Linked DNA regions of Homo sapiens. Changing the gene in region 2 together with the main gene of any one other region gives a genetic interaction. Each region holds a gene or a part of one and is shown on either strand. Other genes may lie near its edges.

Evidence for each region.
Region 1: changes in LSM12 (region 2) and ETAA1 are lethal when combined (synthetic lethality), as found in Homo sapiens cells (one large-scale study listed by BioGRID).

Annotation. Positions count from the first base shown.
Region 1 is NC_000002.12:67,409,761-67,412,714, forward strand, and holds the end of ETAA1 (ewing's tumor-associated antigen 1), read left to right. Parts: intron 1-150; coding exon 151-278; 3' UTR 279-2,329; downstream 2,330-2,954. UniProt on the Homo sapiens protein: Replication stress response protein that accumulates at DNA damage sites and promotes replication fork progression and integrity.
Region 2 is NC_000017.11:44,056,490-44,060,314, forward strand, and holds part of LSM12 (protein LSM12), read right to left. Parts: intron 1-3,825. UniProt on the Homo sapiens protein: Nicotinic acid adenine dinucleotide phosphate (NAADP) binding protein. Confers NAADP sensitivity to the two pore channel complex (TPCs) by acting as TPC accessory protein necessary for NAADP-evoked Ca(2+) release.

The DNA.
Region 1 (2,954 bases), on a different chromosome or scaffold from region 2:
TACTTAGAATTTTATATTCAGTAGTTTAGTTTGATTTAATAGCCAACTAATATGGCAAATCTGGGTGATTAAAAAAAGCAAAAATTAAAGCACATATTGAATGACTTTATAGGCTATAAAAGTAAAACTCATCTTTTGTTGAATTTTTAGAGGAAGAAGAGAAAAATAGAAAGTGTTCTCCTGAAGAAATTCAGAGAAAAAGACAAGAAGCACTGGTTCGGAGAATGGCTAAAGCACGAGCCTCATCTGTAAATGCAGCTCCCACTTCATTTCTTTAATGAAATATTAGTTGGAAGACTTCACGAAGACTGCTGATAACTATCTGTGATTGATAGGAAATTTTTTTTCTTGATTTCTCTGTGAGAAATGTAATGCTGACTTTTATAAAGCCTGGACTTCTACTTTATTTAATAAATCAATGTTTGCAATGGTAAATGAAACATTTCCTTGGACATGTATTTGAAAGTCATTAAATACAAAAGTTTTGGAAATTCAGGAAAGTTAGCAATTATGTACGGATATTATACAGAGGAAAGTAGTTATATTTTTAAATGCTATTATTGCAGAGGATCATCAAAAAAGAGGTAATCTACGTTATTTCCTATTCTAATGTCTTTTCCTAATAAAAAACTTCAACTTTCTAAGTTAGTAGAGACTGTTTTTGTAGTTTTACTTTCATTAACTGTTGCTTAAGGTTTTTATACACTTCCAGATTTTAATTAATACTTTCATATTTCTAGGAACATGGTTGATATGAAATAAAGGACTTTTTATTTGTAAGGAAATTATGTTCAGTTCTTAGAAGTGGATTTGAATTTTAATAATTCTAAAATGTGACACATTTTGGAAACTTTCCACCATATTTAGGAAAACTTTGATTTTAGAAGTCTAACATAGAGGAAAAGAAGTAGTGGATTGTCTACAAAAGTAATGTGGCATCATTAACATTTAGAACTGGCAGAAACTTCATATGTCATCTGGTCCAGCTTCCTTATTGTATCGGTGAGAAAAAGTAATACTGTTTTCAAAGTCATAGGCAAGTTAATGCTGTGCTACAATTAGAATGATTTATTTGGACACCTAAACAATTATACTATTTGTTTCAAAGTATCAGTACATAAAATAACTTGAGGGAGTATTATTTTCTAGTATAAAACAAAAGATGTAATTAAAAGCACAATAAGGACTGTTTGATAATAATGCTCATTGTTCCTTATTTTGCTTTAAAGAATTAGTCTTTCCAGGATATAAAAATGAGAATCTTTTTTCTTTTCAGTTTTTCTGTAACTGTAATTTTCCCCTCAATTAATTTACTTAGTTGACTCATCTTTTCTTCTCTATTACTGTTTTGTTTTTTTCTTTTTTTGCCATTTTGCCTATTTGGAATTTGCTAAACCAGTAATAGAAGTCCAACTAGAGGGCGTAAGGCAGGGAGGATGCTTTATTCCTCTTAAATGGTTTTAGGAGATCTAGAGAAAGTTAGAGATATGAAACACCTGTCATGGTGTGGCATTTATCACTATCAAGTGTCTCAAAGCTGTGATAATATGGTAGTTACTGCCCTATAGCTATACAGATACTCCTCAACTTACCGTGTAGTTACATCCCAATAAACCCATCATGAGTTGAAAATACCTTAAGTTAAAAATGCATTTACTACACTTAATCTACCAGACAACATAGCTTAGCTTAGCCTACCTTAAACATGCTCAAATCACTTATATTAGCCTAGAGTTGGGCACATCATCTGGCAATACGGCACACTGTAGAGTATCAGTTGAGCTGATGCCCAGCATCGTGAGAATGTTGTACCACATATCTCTAGCCTGGGAAAGAATCAAACTTTAAAGTATGGTTTCTATTGGACGCATATCACTTTTGCATCACGTTAGAGTTGAAAAATTGTAAGTCAACCATTTTAAGTTGGAGACTGTACATCAAAAATGGTATTTTCATATCTACAGTGGAGTACTGGAGTTTAGCTAACCTATATTATTTTTCCAGGAATATATAATAACCTAGATAAATGCAAGTAGTTTCTATGTACAAAAATAAAGAGCTGAGAATCTTTTACTAAAAGTGGCTTCACTGTGTTCTGACTATGCTTTGGATATCTCTGTCCTTGCTTAAGCTCCTCCCTGCTTACTGCTTGCTTTTTTAAGAGTACTTTTAGCCTATTCTGTTCATTCATTTAGACTCAGCCTAATAAGTCTGTTTGAACCTCGTACCTAACCATCTTCACTGGAATTGATTGCTTCTCTCTGATCATAATGGTACTAATTATTGTGTCTTTCATTGAGCAATACTATAATGCCTTTATGTGTTGTTTAGTTGTATAAATCTTATTTTATAATTTGTCATTTTGTGTCTCTGGTAATTCTGCCAAATTCTTATACAGCTCATAGTATTATTTACGTAATAGTTTTCTCTAAGTGACTCCCTTTTTTTAAAAAAAAAAAAAAAAAAAAAACTTTTATAGCACTTCTGGGTGGTGGCAGGTGTAATGGCCCTGTACATCTGAACCTCACATGACTGGTTTTTAGGGTCACTGCTCCTGTTCATACCACTCTCCTTTCCTATCCTGACTCTTCCTTTAGCCCTTGTTGGAAACATTAGGGGGTGAATGGCCCATAAATGAGCATGCAGAGGGCTGACTATATAGTTTGCCTGGCTTTTCTCTTTCCTAGTCTATAGGGAATCTGGGGAAGGGACAACTGGTAGCCTGGCAATTTCCCCCTAAAGTTCCGCTGCTGTTTCTGCATCTCAGACTGATGCTAATAATGCCATTATTTCCAAAAAGAGCCTGTTGAAAGCGGAGCTTATCTCTCATTCATCTTTTTCTGTTATAGACAGATGACTCGGACCCCAGGAACATTGGGGTTGCTTACTGCAGACAGTGGTATGCAGACATGTATCCTACCATGGGAAACACTGCCTTATATACTACCCTATTA
Region 2 (3,825 bases):
CACACACCTGTAGTCCCAGCTACTCAGGAGGGTAAGGCAGAAGGACTGCTTGAGATTGGGAGGCATGATGGCGTGTGCCTGTGGTCCCAGCTACTCAGGAGGGTGAGGCAGAAGAACTGCTTGAACCCAGGAGGCAGAGGTTGCAGTGAGCTGAGATTGCACCACTGCACTCCAGCCTTGGTGACAAAGGAAAACTCCTCTCCAAAAAAAGAAAAAAAAAAAATACAGCCTGGTACAGTGGCTCACACCTGTAATCCCAGCACTTTGGGAGGCCGAGGCAAATCACCTGAGGTCGGGAGTTCAAGAACAGTCTGACCAACATGGAGAAACCCTCTCTACTAATAATACAAAATTAGCCAGGTGGGGTGGCACATGCCTGTAATCCCAGCTACTTGGGAGGCTGAGGCAGGAGAATCACTTGAACCCGGGAGGCAGAGGTTGTGGTAAGCTGTAATCGTGCCATTGCACTCCAGCTTGGGCAGCAAGAGTGAAACTCTGTCTCAAAAACATAAAAAAATAAGACGGACGTGGTGGGGCGCACCTGTACTCCCAGCTACTCGGGAGGCTGAGACAGGAGAACTGCTTTAGCACAGGAGGCGGAGGTTGCAGTGAGCTGAGATAGAGCCATGGCACTCCAGCCTGGGCAACAGAGTAAGACTTTTTTTTTCTTTTTTTTTTGAGACGGAGTCTCGCTCTGTCTCCCAGGCTGGAGTGCAGTGGCGCGATCTCAGCTCACTGCAAGCTCCGCCTCCTGGGTTCACACCATTCTCCTGCCTCAGCCTCCCAAGTAGCTGGGACTACAGGCACATGCCACCACGCCCAGCTAATTTTTGCGTTTTTAGTAGAGACGGGGTTTCACCATGTTAGCCAGGATGGTCTTGATCTCCTGACCTCGTGATCCGCCCGCCTCGGCCTCTCAAAGTGCTAGGACTACAGGCGTGAGCCACCGTGCCTGGGTGAGACTTCATCTTAAAAAAATAAATAATAATGTGCCAGGTACAGTGGCTCACGCCTGTAATCCCAGCACTTTGGGAGGCGGAGGTGGGCGGATCATGAGGTCAGGAGTTCAAGACCACCCTGGCCAAGATGGTGAAACCCTGTCTCTACCAAAAATACAAAAATTAGCCAGCTGTGGTGGCAGATGCCTGGAATCCCAGCTACTCCGGAGGCTGAGGTAGAGAACTGCTTGAACCTGGGAGGCAGAGGTTGCAGTGAGCTGAGACAGCACTACTGCATTATAGCCTGGGAGACAGACGGAGACTCTGTCTCAAAAAAAAAACAAAGTAATAATAATAATAATAATACATAAAGTCAAAGTTTCCAAGAACCTACCAAAGACGTTAAGTGAGAGCCTAGTGTAATGGCATAAATCTTCTATGGGCCCTTTGTCACAATGCCCTCCTTCCCCTGCCTTATCTCATCCCATAATTCAATGAGCATTAGTTAGCTACAATAAAAAAATCTGGGCCGGGCACAGTGGCTCACGCCTGTAATCCCAGCACTTTGGGAGGCTGAGATGGGGGGATCATGAGGTCAGGAGATTGAGACCATCCTAGCTAACACGGGGAAACCCTGTCTCTACTAAAAATACAAAAAAATTAGCTGGGCGTGGTGGTGGGCGCCTGTAGTCCCAGCTACTCGGGAGGCTGAGGCAGGAGAATGGCGTGAACCCAGGAGGCGGAGCTTGCAGTGAGCCGAGATCGCGCCACTGCACTCCAGCCTGGGCGACTGAGCAAGACTCCGTCTCAAAAAAAAAATAATAAATAATAATAATAATAATAATAATTTGGGAGACATTAACTAACATCTGCCAAGTCTAATGACTTTAAAGACTGATCTACTTGGTTCATTCCTAAGTCTTTTCTACTAGACTACCCTGCCCCTGACCACAGAACATAGATGTTTTTCTTTACTTAGAAACGTTACCTAGGGGCTGGGCCAGTGGCTCATACCTGTAATTCGAATACTTTGGGAAGCCGAGGAAGGAGGATTGCTTGAGCCCAGGAGTTACAGACCATCCTGGGCCACACAGTAAGACCCTGTCTCTACAAAAAAAAACTAGGCTGGGCGCGGTGGCTCACGCCTGTAAACCCAGCACTTTGGGAGGCCAAGGCGGGTGGATCATGAGGTCAGGAGTTCGAGATCAGCCTGGTCAACATGGTGAAACCCCATCTCTACTAAAGATACAAAAAATTAGCCAGGCATGGTGGCGCACGCCTGTAATCCCAGCTACTTAGGAGGCTGAGGCAGGAGAATTGCTTGAACCTAGGAGGCAGAGGTTGCAGTGAGCCGAGATCACGGCACCACCGCACTCCAGCCTGGGCAACAGGGCAAGACTCCATCTCAAAAAAGAAAGAAAAATTAGCCAGGTGTGGTGGTTTGTGCCGGTAGTCCCAGCTACTTGGGAGGCGAGGTGGAAAGATCACTTGAGCGAACCCTGGAGGTCGAGGCTGCGGTGAGCTGTGACTGCATCATTTGCACTCCAGCCTGGGCACAGTGCGAGACTAACTAAAAAGAAACAAAACAACCACCCAGGTGTGGTGATGGGAGATTGTAGTCCCAGCTACTCAGGAAGCTTGGGCGGATCACTTGAGGCTATGAGCCAGGAGTTCGAAGCTGCAGTGAGTTATGATCATGCCACTGCACTCTAGCCTGGTCAACAGAATGAGACTATATCTCTAAAAAACAGAACACACACACACACATACACACACACACGAAACATAACTTAGCATTGTACATTATTCAGGGTACTTCATGTTGCCAAACTATGAGTTCCTTGGGCTAAACACAAAGTAATAGAAAAACAGGGGACTTGGCCAGGTGCAGTGGCTCACGCCTATAATCCTAACACTTTAGGAGGCCGACGCAGGTGGATTATCTGAGGTCAGGAGTTCAAGGCCAGCCTGGTCAACACGGCAAAACCCCATCTCTACTAAAAATAGAAAAATTAGCCGGGCATGGTGGCAGCAGGCGCCTGTAATCCCAGCTACTCAGGAGGCTGAGACAGGAGAATCGCTTGAACCGAGATCACACCGGGCAATGGACTGAGACCCTGTCTCAAAAAAAAGAATTCCCCCTACTGCAACCCTACTGTCCTCTCTCAAGCTTCCTCTTACATGCTACTGCTGGAGATAGAAATAAGACTTCTTAGCCTGAAGTGAACTATCATTCGAAAGCAAAACAGGCCAATTTCCAAGAAGTTGCTAGTTTATACCTTCCCTAGTTGAGCTATTATTAAGTATTTCCTGTATAAGCCCTTCTCTTCCATTTCCTGCTAGGTCAGAGTCAACAAATATCCGGTTTTTATCAACAGGTTTAATTAAGCAGATCACTTACTATGTCAGCAAGATGGGCCAATATGTGATGATACCTTTGACTAAAGTTAGAGTAGGCCGGGTGTGGTGGCTCAAGCCTGTAATCCCAGCACTTTGGGAGGCCGAGGCGGGCGGATCACAAGGTCAGGAGATCGAGACCATCCTGGCCAACATGGTGAAACCCCGTCTCTACTAAAAATACAAAAAAATTAGCCGGACATGGTGGCGGGCGCCTGTAGTCCCAGCTACTCGGGAGGCTGAGGCAGGAGAATGGCATGAACCCGGGAGGTGGAGCTTGCAGTGAGCCGAGATGGCGCCACTGCACTCCAGCCTGGGCGACAGAGCAAGACTTCGTCTCAAAAAATAAATAAATAAAATAAAATAAATAGAGTAGGCTAGTGCTTCTCCAGACTGCAAGCAACTGAAACTTCAACAGTTTTCTTCCAGACATCCCAGAGTACATTAGTTCCCTTCCATATGCTTAAATGATCCTCCATCTTAAGAAAAA